Linked DNA regions of Homo sapiens. The protein of the gene in region 2 interacts with the protein of the main gene of each other region in a biochemical or structural test. Each region holds a gene or a part of one and is shown on either strand. Other genes may lie near its edges.

Evidence for each region. Proteins that work in one complex are often made in the same cells at the same time.
Region 1: the proteins of COL6A5 (region 2) and USP3 form a complex in vitro, tested with the Homo sapiens proteins (one study listed by BioGRID).

Annotation. Positions count from the first base shown.
Region 1 is NC_000015.10:63,556,593-63,563,592, reverse strand, and holds part of USP3 (ubiquitin carboxyl-terminal hydrolase 3), read right to left. Parts: intron 6,927-7,000; coding exon 6,845-6,926; intron 5,488-6,844; coding exon 5,405-5,487; intron 3,737-5,404; coding exon 3,623-3,736; intron 699-3,622; coding exon 585-698; intron 1-584. UniProt on the Homo sapiens protein: Deubiquitinase that plays a role in several cellular processes including transcriptional regulation, cell cycle progression or innate immunity.
Region 2 is NC_000003.12:130,383,617-130,390,779, reverse strand, and holds part of COL6A5 (collagen alpha-5(VI) chain isoform 1 precursor), read right to left. Parts: intron 5,977-7,163; coding exon 5,416-5,976; intron 2,201-5,415; coding exon 1,646-2,200; intron 1-1,645. UniProt on the Homo sapiens protein: Collagen VI acts as a cell-binding protein.

The sequences.
Region 1 (7,000 bases), on a different chromosome or scaffold from region 2:
AGGATTCCTCTGACAGCTAGGTGTACAGCAGAGGTGTATTTTGCTCAAGCGAGGTGAGACAGAAAGCATGGGCACCACAGCAGCTCTCTGGCCACACCGGGATGTGGCACAGCTGCCTTCTGGAGAGTGCATCCCAGGCGCTTGACCACAGCCTTCCCAGAGCTGCCGAACTCAGCTCCGAACAGTTCATATAATACCATGCACTTCTACTGATCTTATTAATTTTTTTAGCTGGAATAACAAGACAGTGTGTGATGGTAATTATTCTACATTGTGAAAGAATTAAGGAAATTTTGTCCAGTATGTTTTCCTAGTGCGCATAAGTTATTTATAAGGGCTTTATGTTTATAGCAACAAAATACCCCACCTCTTGTTAAAGACATTTCTATAGTCTATTATTTAAATAAACACATGTGTTTAGTCAGATGTATTCAATTTCAGCTCTTCTTCTTAAAAAGAAAAAAACACCAAACCAGTCTTAAGTATTTAGAATATTTAGAATACAACCACTTCATTAGGAATTATTTCAGGAACAGTATAAACACTAATATTAATGTTTAAAAATATCTTCATATAATACTTACCTAAAGTTTGGCATAATCTTCCAAACAACATAAAATAAGGACTCTGGGCTAAATGCAGTCTGGCTGCCTTGCCATAAAGCACAGAGTGTCTTTCTAAACTCTTCTACCAAAGACCTGCAAAAGAGGAAAGGACAGTGCCCTCAGATTAGTGAGAGGCTACAATTTCAACACAGCGTCCACCCATCTAAAATGCCTAATATATAGGAAATGAACACTTAAAAAGGATTTGGTCTTTTCTGAAGAAAGTCTGAAAGATACATAAGAGCATCTCAAAAACCCATAAAAGTAGCAGTAATTCTGACAAAGCTAATTTGTAACCATATGGTTAACTCTGAGTGTGCCCATGCACCGCCATGTTTGTACACTTTGAGTTAAAACACGCAAGCAAACCATACAGCACTGGGTGAGTTATAGGCCAAATGACTTAAGAATGTACATTTTCAAAATGCAAAACAAGCATTCGGCTTTCTTTCTCCCCCTCCTGCCTTGTCCTTCTTGCCACTCACTAGCACCCCCAGACTCCAGCCTGTGTCACTAACCTTCACCACTCAGCTCTCCACCAGTGACTCTCAACTCCAAAAGTCAGATTTTCTCATGACTATTTTTATTTAAACTTCTCCAGTTTCCAGCAGGAATTTTCTGCGGGAGGTCCTCTTGTCACTTTCACCTCTATGTGCACTGACCGGCTCCAGCATCTACTGCTCTCTGTACACCTCTCCTATCACCCAATATCCACACTCTTCTCGCATATGAATAGAACGCTCATTTTTTTCCTGGGCATATAAACTCTCCCAATAAAAAACTGAGTGTGTCCAAATTCTGGGAAATGTCTTAAAAAGAAAGAGTAGTCCTATAATAATCCTTTCCTTCTTCCTGCTAGGAATGAGGACGGAGTTGGGGAGCCCCAGCACCATGGGGGACTATGTGGATGGATAGGGCCTCTGGAGGTTGGTGGAAAAGAAAGCCAGGAGGAGCCCGATGGCTTTGTCAAACCACCCTAGACAGACAGCCTCTGACTTTTATGTGAGGAAACAAACCATGGATGTTTAAGTCACTTAATTTTGGTTTTCTACACCTGTGGCTAAACTGATCCAACTCAACTTCAACTTCCATAGCTGTCAACATAAGCACCATATTTTCGGATACTTGATTGGTATCTCAGAGAATCTCAATATCTTCTTTCTCAACCCTCACAATCACATAGGTCCCTGGAATACAAATCATATTTTTGACTTCCTAGTACTTGAACCCTCTTCCTATGTTGGAGAATCCCTACTTTTAAGAGTTTGCCTCCCACTTCCGAAGCTAAACAGCCAGACACTCGCCTTCTCAGGCTCCCTTGCAGTCAGAGCACAGGTACACAGCCTGGGCTTTGCCCATCCGAAGCAGGAGTTAGTGACACAAAGAAGAAGGGATGGCACCAAATCCTCTCTGGTAGCAGGGGGGGCAAAGAGCACCATCCGGAGTGCAGGGCAGCAGCATGGCTGTGTCCGCCAGCACCCATCTCCAGCAGTGCTGGCAACAGGAACTCTGCTGCTGCGCTGGGCACCAGAGGCAGTGGTGGCCTTACAGGACAGTTCTGTGGGGTGACTGTGACTGCGGTGCTGCTGCCTCGGACTCCAGACCTGATTTTTCACTCACCCAGTATGATTAGCTCACCAATAGCCCTGCAGTAAATTCCTTTGCTGCCTAAATCAGCCAAAGGCAATTTCTACAGCCTGCAACTCAACCCTGCATGACATGAATGCATCAAGTACTACTAACTCTTCTCTTAACTCATACACATGTATTTTTTCTACTGTTTCACTGCTGTCCCCTCTGACCTGATTACTGTAGAGTGCAAAGCCTCCTTGAATGCAGGCACTTTCAACTCATCCTAGATGCTGCTCAACTCATCCTAGATGCTGCTGTGAGGGAAACTCCCTTCAAACACCACTTGTAGTGACGTCATTCCAGCCCTGCTCCACGCCTGGCTTTCCAGTTTCCCTGCACTGTGACTCTCGCCCTACTGCCCATTATTCTGACATGTTCAGTCCTACTCTCCCTCAGCCACCAAGGCAGGAAAGTGTCTGATCACCCCTTCAGAATGAGTGAGAATGGGAGTGTGTGGAAGTGGAGGAGGCAGACAGAGAAAACATTAAATATATAAGGAGTACGAGTCACAGTCCTTCTGAAAAAGAGCTGTAAAGTTATGAAAAATGTGCTCACTACAATTGTCATAATGAAAGATCTTCTGAACCACAAATAAGGGAGGTCTACACCAAATGAGGATACAGGATTGGTTCTTAATGAGCACTTGTCCGTTTTCTTCCCCCCCTCTCCGTATCAACCAAAAATTGACTTTATTCCCCCACAACTAATCTGTTGACTACAAATTAATTTCAGTATCCAAGACAGGTTTACCTAACACTGTCGGACAAATCAACTCACATGGACTAATGAGATTCATAGTCATCTACACCTAGAACTGCACTTCATATCTAGATGCCAATTCTAGAATGCCCAAATCTGCAGAGTCAATAAGTAGAATGCTAAATTTATCCCTCCTGTTACGGTAAATAAAGGAATCCCAACAATTTTTTTTTTTTTTTTTGAGATGGAGTCTCGCCCTGTCACCTAGGCTGGAGGGCAGTGGCGCGATCTCGGCTCACCGCAACCTCTGCCTCTTGGGTTCAAGCGATTCTCCTGCCTCAGCCTCCCGAGTAGCTGGGATTACAGGTACCCGCCACCATGCCCGGCTAATTTTTGTATATTTAGTAGAGATGGGGTTTCACCATGTTGACCAGGCTGGTCTTGACTGACCTCAGGTGATCCACCCGCCTCAGCATCCCAAAGTGCTGGGATAACAGGCGTGAGCCACCACACCCGGCCGGAATTCCAACAATTATTAAGATTGCTAACTAGATATTTAAACACAATTTTTAGAAGATTTTTTTTAAGGCATGTGCCTGTTAGCTCACTTAGTACAATGGAAACCACCAGTGAAAGTAATTTGTTTTGTAACTCAAAGCCAGAAAGGACATACTCTTATAACTCACACATTGTTATCCCCTTGGCTCCTGGTGTGGTATGTCCGCCTTCCTGCTGTTTTCCCATTCCTTAACTCCACGGCGGGCAGTTCTTTGAAATAACAGCAAAACTGCTCAATGTTACTATTTTAAAAGGAAGGGAAAAATATTTTAAAAAGAAAAGAATAGGACTGTAAAGAAAGTTGATGAAGCCTACATATACATTTTGAAACTGCCATTTTTCAATTGTCTCATTTAAACTGTACTCAGTGCAATCTCTTGCATTCAGATTCTTCATTATGATTTTTCCTTCTCTCTAAGAAAACAGTATAGACAGATGACTTTGTAAAAAAACAAAAACAAAAAACAAAGAGCTGAAAACAAAATCTCTTTTCAAAAAAATCCCCAATTCTCCCTCCAGCTATAGGTAGTCACCATTTCTTTCTTTTCGGTTGCTTGTTTCCAGTTATTCAATAATTTCCTCAAATAAAAACAAACCATGAAACCGACCATATTATTTTGATACACTATACAGAATCCTAAGGAGAATTCAGTAGTAATTATAATTTCCTCTTTGAGCAAGAAGAGATAAGCTAAGAGGCAGTGCCTTCCAGGAGAGATCAAATATGCCTTCTGCTTCTTATCAGCAATGTAACCTTGGGAAGATCATTTATTCTGGCCTTTGATGTCTCATTAAAATCTAAAAGTATGCAACTTTCAAAATAATTTATTCTACAAAACTTAAGTCAGCCTTGTTGACTATTTTATTTTTACTACTTGTCTCATATTTTGAAGACATCTCATCTTATGACCTTGATTAACCCATTTATGCCTAGTGTTCCATTATTGGAACGCTAAGCTTCTGGGAGTTATTTATATCTTACTGATCGAGGTCATCACCAACGTCTGATTTTTCATACAGAAAAATTGCAACCTCTGACATAAATGGGTTAAAACTTAACTAATGACTGAAATAAGCTCTCTGAACAAGGCTCTCTGTAACCCAGGGGTCTGCAAACTGTAGCCCACAGGCCAAATCTAGCCCTCCACCAGGCAGCTCTTAAAGCGAGTTTTAAATTTTTAAAGTGTTGTTTTATTTAATTAATTAATTAATTTATTTATTTTTGAGACAGGGTCTCGCTTTGTCACCCAGGCTGGAGTGTAGTGGCGCCATCTTGGCTCACTGCAACTTCCACCTCCTGGGTTCAAGCGATTCTCCTGCCTCAGCCTCCCAAGCAGCTGGGACTAGAGGCGCATGCCACCACGCCCAGCTAATTTTTGTATTTTTAGTAGAGATGGGGTTTCACTATGTTGGCCAGGCTGGTCTCAAACTCCTGACTTTAGGTGATCTGCCCGCCTCAGCCTCCCAAAGTGCTGGTGGGATTACAGGCCTGAGCCACTGCACCTGGCCCTAAAGTGTTGTTTTAATAAAGAGCGGGGGGGTGGGGGATATCTGAGAGAGACTGTAGCCTGAAATACTAAAATGTTTACTATCAGGCCTTTCACAGAAAAAGTTTGCTGACCTCAGTTCTAGCCTATTCAAAAAGCAACCGGAAATAACCGCAAACAACTATTCACTGCAGGACACTGCTCTAAGTACTTTAGACAAATTACATTATTCAATCTTCCCAACTACCCCATGAGGTAGGAACTACTGTCCCCAATTTTACTGATGAGGAAACAAAAGCACAGGAAATTAAGGTATCTTGCTCCAAACCATATGACTAGAGTTAGTGGCAGACGAGATAGGGAGCCAGAGCCCGTGCTCTTAACCTTTAATGTCAGACACTTAAGCTCTGACTGTAGCGTTACCTGAGTGACTGAAGGATGGCATTCATGAAACATGTGTTCCCCAAATTCCGAAGGCCTGTGGCACAAATGGCAGTGGTGCTTCCCTGTAAGTGGTGCAAGAAGAGGCCATCAGTAATGCCAAGGGAAGGCCAACTGTTTCAAACATCAAAGCTAAGGAAAGGCCTCTGAAATCTAGCACCAAGCCAATTTGGAATTGGTCCTTTTCTGTCCAATGAATATTTCAAACAAACTCTCTAGTCTCTGTATAAATGTCTGGATATTTTTAGAAGGCTGTTTCTGATCCTGGGATTGTTCTAAATAGAAGTATCTTATTGAAAGCTTATGAGGAAATCACCATTAATGAGTACCATGGAGTACACAATGCAAAAAACAGGAAATCCTTAAAATAACATTTAAGACTTAATGCCTTTTTAAGATTCTATAAAAACTAAGAGAAATGGAAAAAATATAAATATATACACCCCAAGTATTTTTGTCCCCAAACTTTTAACTCTAAGCCATACATAAACGACCAATACACGTTTTCCTAACAATGGGATATGAATCTTGAAAAGCTGCCTGAGGCCAGGCGCCTCAAGACAGGCCGCCAACATGGCGAAACTCCGTCTCTACTAAAAATACAAAAAGGCTGGGTGTGGTGGCTCATGCCTGTACTCCTAGCACTTTGGGAAGCTGAGGTGGGTGGATTGCCTGAGCTCAGGAGTTCGAGACCAGCCTGAGCAACACGGTGAAACTCCGTCTCTACTAAAACAGAAAAAGTTAGCCGGGCGTGGTGGCGTGTGCCTGTAATCCCAGCTACTTGGGAGGTTGAGGCAGGAGAATTGCTTGAACCCAGGAGGCTGAGGTTGCAATGGGCCAAGATTGTGCCACTGCACTCCAGCCTGGGTGACAGAGTGAGACTCCATCTCAAAAAAAAAAAACAAAAACAAAAACAAAATAAAAGTACAAAAATTAGCCAGGCGTGGTGGTGTACACCTGTTGTCCCACCCCCTTGGGAGGCTGTGGCAGGAGAATCACTTCAGCCTGGGAGGCAGAGGTTCCAGTGAGCCGAGACTGCGCCACTGTACTCCAGCCTGGGCTACGGAGTGGGACTCCATCTCAAAAAAAGGAAAAGCCGCCTGAAGCTAAAGACTTAGTCTTAAAAACAAAGGCTGGGTTTTCTGATGACGAAGGAGTGTGAGCAAGTATTAAGAGTGAACTGTTTTCTAGGGAAGAGGAGCACAGCAGTAACGCTGATGGGAAGAAGGTGCTGACAGATGGACTCACTGGGGTCACGGCAACAATCGACAGTACAGGTGGCAAACATTGTGTAAAATACTCCAAATCCAAGACACACATTTATAAAAGTCTGTAACAGGTAACATTACATGTTAGAGTTGTAACAAAACAGTGATTAAATCTCAACTAACTCTTATATTTGAATAAATTTTAATTACTTACATTTACTTTTAATAACTTGCTGTTTAGTGTTGAGTTTTCCAAAAGTTTTCTTTTCTTATGCCTGTCAGCTGTGAAAGCTGAGCTATTAAAACACAAACAGATAGTGAAAAAGTTATTAATATATGCATGCTACACCACAGGTGAAAGAATAAACTC
Region 2 (7,163 bases):
ATTTCGAAAAGCTCAGGAGCTCACTGTATAAGTTGGTAGTTTTACCCTACTCCCTCTGGCTCCAGGTATCTTTGGACCCTCGGGTATGCAAACCATCCCTGTTTATCATGTCTCTCTGCAGTTATTTATGCTTTTTCCCCTAACCTTTTGAATTAGAACTCAGAAAGAAGTGGCCCCAAGTAGGAGGAGAGCAAAAACTCCTATCACCTTTTCCCTGACCCCAAACCCTCCTCCACATTGTAAGACAAATGACTGTTTTGGCTGGCTTTCCAAAGTGTGGACTCTTTCCCCACTCTTTTCCTTCCCTCAATAACTTATGCACATGTATTCCAAAGATTGGCTTTCTCCACTTTCCACCTGCCTAGCTAATTGTCAACTCTTATTTCTAATAATAAAGTCTCAAATTTTTAATTTTCTGACACTGTGAATGTCCCCAGGCTGTATCTGTAAAAACCTTGGTCAATGACCCACTGAGAACTGGTGACTAGTCATGACCTGATACTTAGGAGACAATCTAATGCATGAGTCAGCTGAATTTCAGGTTATGCTGTAGACAGGGCCTCCACATTTACATTAATCAAAATGAAGAAATGCCAAGAAGAGCCTTGCAGGTTTCAAAGTTGAAGCTATAGCCTTTAGGTACACCTCTCAACATTATCAAGAGTTTTGGAATCACTGCCATCTTTGGGGGAAGAAGAAAATTCCAATTAAGCTGTTACCAAGGAAACTTTAGAACTATCACCTAACACTTAAGTGTTTATAAGACATTATGTTAAGTTTCTGAAAATTCCACATGCATAATTTTGACGAATAAAGTCCAATGAAAATCTCTATGTTGCCACAGGAACAACACAAAACAAACTTACTTGGGTTTGTTTTCTTAGTTGTATCCAAAACACAGAAAATAGCACATGATAGATTTAAAAACATAGGTGTTTTAGTCTATGTGTGGATTGAGAGAAAGCTCTCATTCAAAAGACATTAAAATTGATAGGCTCAAACTGAAGGTTGCACAATACAATTTTAAAAGCACTACAATTTGTAAGAATAAAATGATGACCCCAAGTAATCAGAAAAGTGACAAATTACAATTTTTCAAAGGGATGGATACACGAACAGGCAAATATAAAATATCCAGTTGATAGAGGTTAAGAATAATAATGTGAAGTAATGAAAATAAACTATCTTTAAAATACCCAGGGTTTTCTTGGTGGGTGGTGCTTAGGATACTAGATATAATTTAACTAAAAGAAAGACGAATTTGTATTTCTAGTTATTTTCTGCTTAACAATGGTCATAGATAGCCAAGAAACAATTCTAGAAAATCATTTGGGATTAAAAACTGGCTCTGGAAAATCCAGGCATGTGGGTATTAAAGATTTGTAAGTTTAAAGTAAAATTCTGGGATCTTTTTGGAACATATTTGAAGTCACCAATGCCATACTAACTTGTGCCAAACTAGATGCCAAAATTGTTAGTCTGAAACATTCCTGGAGGTCACAGGCATTTTAATATTACATAAAGAAGACCAAAACTTAACACTGAAGTCCAGGTGGAGGTCAGGGCCAGAGTGCCATTCACTGTTTCTCATTATAAAGTCAACAGCTCACATCCTTTAGTCCTGACAGATAACAGGGACACTTACCATGGAGAGCACACACACGAAAGATAAGTTTCCTTTCTAGTGCCTTTAGATGATCGAAGTTCTCAACATGAAAAACTAGGCTGCTATCCCCACTGATCTCTTCTAGCTGAGATCTATTGGCATTGTATACTCCTACAGAGAAGATGGTCACATCTTTGCCCCGAAGAATTCTAGCAGGATCTCTCACATCATCCTGCGCTACTCCATCTGTGATGAGGATGAGAAATTTTTTGGCCCCCAAACGGGCCCCCTTGGAGTGGGTGAAGTATTGACCTACAAAATTTAGTGCCTTTCCAGTTAAAGTGCCTTCATTGATGAGAGACATTCTATCTATTGCATCAGAAATTTCTTGCTGTGTAAAATATCTATTAAGCTGGAACTCTTCCTTAGTTTTATCACTGAACTGAACAACACCAATCTGGGTTTTGTCTGCACCAATTTGAATTTTAGTTAACAGGTTTTTCATGAAGATTTTCATTTTCCTAAAATTTTCATTTCCTATACTCCAAGAACTGTCCACCAGAAACATGATGTCGGCCTTCATGTCTTCACATCCTGCATGTTATAAAAAAAAAGACCAGAAATAACCAGGTTGGAAAGGTTCTCATGAAGTAACATTAAGGCAGAAACAAATGCATTAATGAGAAAACATTGAAAATTAACTCAGGCAACTGTTGTTATGTTTGAAAATTGTATTTGCTTCTTTAGTAGAAGCTGGTTGACTAGAACCTTGAATCAGAAATGCAGCTTCCAAAATGTGTATTTATTCATGCATGCATGCATGCATGCATAACTCATTTATTCATATTTCTTTCATTCATTCAATCATAATTTTGAGTTGTATAAAATGCCAGGCATCCAGCCATGTGTTAAAGATGCAGTAGTGATACAAAAAAGGAACCAGAGCCAAAGCAATCAATTCCTTGCACTCATAGTACTAACACTCCAGGGTTTTATGTATATTCTGGAGAAACACAATTTCAAATAATTTTTAAATAGCATTATTTTCTGGGATAATTCTAAGTGATTTCATAAACACTATAAATCAATATTAGAAATTGGAGAAAAAGTTTTTACTAGAGATAAGTGCTTCAGTAAGCATATACTCATTCAACATGGACTGTTCCTTTATACATAATATTTGTAGACAGCCTACTGATTGGAAATGAACATACAGACATACGTATATATATATATACATATATATACACACATATGTATGTTCATTGTTCTATGTATAATATAGACATATGTACACATATAAAACCAATTTCTATAATCTATTAAAAACAATATTATTAATTCATGATACATATGTTGTGTATATATATAATATGCAAATATATTGTCTTTAGCATGTATCTTTTTAGTCTTAATCCCTTTTGTCTATCTGTAATCTCTGCCATCCTCTTACAGTTTCTCCCTCAACATTCTGAAGTCTATCCCATACTTCTTGAAAATAAACATAGCATCAGCCATATATTAAAAAAATGAAAAGATGTTAACTATTACTTAATAAACGTGTAAGGTCACATTCTGATCCACCAGGAGGACTACACCACCATTTTAAGATTCAAGCTGCCATGGAACCATCTTGAAAGTCATGAGAGGAGAAATTGCTGAAGATGTTTGTGGCCTTGACAGAGTGGCCTTGACCACTGTAGTGAAGTGTGAAAGATTCTCTTCCATGTAACACATATAAAAGAAATAGGCTTCTACATACAGTTTAGTATTCACAGGATCTACTTCCTGGTATCTATTTGTGACAGAAACTACTTAATGTCCCTGAATATCTATCTTTCCATTCTTCTATGTTAATAAAATTTTAGATAGGCAGATGATTGCCCATCTAAAGATTGTATTTCCCAGCCTTCCTTGAAGCTAGCTGTGGCCTTGTGTCTAAGTTTTAACCAAAAGGTATGAGAAAAAAGTGATCTGGCCACTTCTGGGTCTTACCATTAAAACAGTTGAGTGTGGTAGGCTCCCTTGGTCCTTTCTCCCTTTCCATGGATGGAAGGTGATAAGAACTGGATCTTCAGTTTTGACCTAAAGATGGAAGCTATGTGTTGAGGATGGAACAGCCTCTCTACTAGACCTGGACTATTCACCCTAAACTATTATGTAAGAGAAAAATGATATTCTGTACTGTGTAGTCTGGGGTCTTTTTGCTATTGCAGCTTAACCTGTACCCTACTAATACACTGTGCCTCACTCCATCTGCATCTGCTCTGAGACTCCTTAGTTTTTTCTAGCTCCACAAGCTTTGGCTCCTTTGTTTTCCTGCTTCTCTGTTAGCCATTTTATGACTCATTTCCTTGTCCACAACTTATCTCCTCCTCCAGGCATGCCAGTGCTCAGGCTGACTACTTCAACTGCAACTACCTGAAGTGCAAGGGATGTACTGTACCTCCCTAGATTCGTCCAGGACCTTCTCCCTTGAAAGGATCTGAGATACAACCTACTTTATGCTTCCTGGAATCCTTTTACTTTTCTTAGCATCGACTCCAGGAAACATTGGGGAATCTTTTATTCTTGCACTCTTTCTAAGACACCCTAAAGACCCAACTCTGTTACTGTCCATAACAGGGAGAAAAATGAACAAAATTGTTACTTAGGATTTTGTTGTTAATGCTATTTATTTGCTTACTTATTTTTTATTTTTGTTTTTCAGTGGCTTAGAGAAAATTCAAACACGTTTTCAGTTTAGTCAAATAAGTGAGAATTCTCTTCCTTTCCTCATCGGTGAACACCTTAGCCACCTTCTGCAACAGCTAACTTTTTTGTAGCGCTTACTATGTTCCAGGCACTCCTCTAACTGCTCCACGTGTGTTATCACCATTAAGCTTCACAATAAGCCTACAAACAAGGAAACCAAGGCAAGTAGACACTAACTTATTCAAGGTCGTGGCTAATCAGTGGTAAAGCTAGGGTATGAACCTTGACTCTGACTCTAGCATCTTTCCTCTTTACCAGTAAACTAATGTGCTTCTCAGCAGGCAATATTTTCATGTGCTAATACTGGCAATCAACACATACCATCTTGAACTAGTAAGTGGTGTAAGTGGCCATTATTAATAATAGAAATAAAAAAACAACCAGATATAGAAATTTGCAAATTGTTTCTCCTAACTTTTGGTACTTAATCTCTAATTAGAACAAAAATGCAAGTATGTGTTTTTGTTGTAAATAAAAATGAACAATTATTACATATATACTTGATATGCATTTAATATAAAAATAATGGTTGGCATTTATGGTGCTCAACTTATAAGGATTCTCTGATGTAGGTATTATCCTCATTTTATAAATGACAATGTTCCAGGCTCAAGTGGAAGTATGTGAGTCAAACCCTAAGCTATCTAGAGCCAAAGTCCATTTTCCTTCCACTGTACCCACCTGTGCACACACAAACACTGTACTTCCCCCGTACTTATTTGTGTATGCACATACATACACACACACACACCTCCCATGCAGAATAGAATCTCTCTCACTCCACAGCAGTGGGCTTTGTCAAGGCCCCAACATTCTTAGCAACCTTCCCACTTATGACTTCCAAGATGGCCTTGGGGCAACTGTTTATAGACAGATTCTCCAGTCTTGGCATTTGGTTTAAAAGTGAGGGGCTGAATCCCTCCATGGTAATAAAGGAAGCTAGCAAAATGTTATCCGGACAACTGGTCACATCAGGCCTTGTCTCAGCCTGGCCATTAATCTGCCTAAAGCAATTGATGAAATGTGGAGAATAAAGCCTTTTTTGTGTTGCTTACCTTTTTCAGCGCAGATTTCACGAACGACTTCATTTTTTATGCTTTTCAAAGCATCAAAGTTCTGCCCAAAGCTAACCCTTTCTTCTTTCCCAGCAATTTCTTGCAGTTCTATTTTATTAGCTGCCCCAATGCCAACTGCATGAACAGTGATTTGCTCAGCCCTTAGTCTCTTAGCAGGTTCCACGACTCTGTCTGTGGACATCCCATCAGTCAACACAATGAGGTAACAGGGAACCTTGCTCATTCTATCCTTCATTCCATTTTTTATTATTTGCAGTATGTAATCCAGAGCTTTCCCAGTATAAGTTCCACCAGTTAGTTGCTTAATGTTAAAAATAGCCTTTCTTAAGTCAATATCATTAGAATAGTCAGTGATATAAAATTCCACTTCTGTGTCATCTGAATACTGCACAACTCCAACTCGGACTTTGTCTGGGCCAATGCTAAACATTTCTGTCACTTCCAACATAAATCTCTTGATTTGCTCAAACTGTTTCTCCTGGATGCTGCTTGAGCCATCAATGAGGAAGTGGATATCAGCCTCTTTTGTATCCACACAGCCTGAAAAAGAAGTGCATTCTCTGTAAATTAGAGAACCTAGAGAGAACTTTGCAAGAGGGTTTGTGAAGGAACATGAGGCTGAGGCATTTCTAAAGAATGAAGACTTCGTTTTTGCGTAGAGCCTGCACACTTCATTAAGCACAGTCATGCCCATTTTCTCCTTTGAAATTTACAACACCTTGTGAGAAAATTGAAACAGGGCAAAATGTAGTGGTTTGTCTAAGGTCATATAACCAGTAAATTAAAGAGTAAAGACCAAATTCCAGAGACTCCAGGCTCCAAGTTAAATAGTTTTTCTAGCATTGACACCTGCCTTCTTAGACAGTTTATGTCCTATCATTTCTTGAAAAAAGGCATGGGATTGACGATCTTCTATTCTTACTTCACCAATAATCTCTTCTTCCCAGAGCAACTAGAATAAGATATTTAAATATAAACTTAGATCATATTATCCTACCTCTTAAATGATCTATCGTTGCATTTGGAACTTAAAAACTAAAACTTGGCCTTATCTTGTCTCCTGCTTTTCTCTCTGACTCTATTTCCAGCAATTCTTCGTCTCCCTCACTGTGTTCCAACCACATTAGGCTTCATTCTGTCTTTAGAACGTGTCCCTGGGTCTTTGCATGTGCCCTCCTCTCTTCTTGAAATATTCTTTGCCCCAAATATCCACATGGCTGCTTCCTTCTCATCATGGATGTCATCAAGTCATCTCTTAAAAAAGGTCTTCTCTTCTCCTTATCTAAAGCACACCTGTCATTGTCTATCTTCTTACAGTGTTTATTTTCTTTATGTTACTTTCTGAAGTTACCTTCTTCATTTGTTCATGAGCATGGCCTGTTTCTTACCACAGAATGTAATCCATGAGGACAAAGATTTTGTTTATTTTTCTGCTTCTGCCCAGTAGGCCTGGCACATCATAGGAGTTCAGTTTGTTTTTTTTAATAAAAGACTTCTCAATGTTCCTTCCTTTGTTAAGCTGAATCTATGAAAAACTATTTTTGCTTTCTTAGTAGTCTATTTACTACTTTATGTAGATATTCACAGAAACTGGGTAAGAGAAAGAACATATTTTCAAAATTTTGGGTTATGTGTGTCATTATCTGGTTTTCTTGACAGCTCTTAGGTAATTTATAGCTACTGACACTACTTCAGCCCACGGCAGTTGCTCCTTAGGAAATCAGATA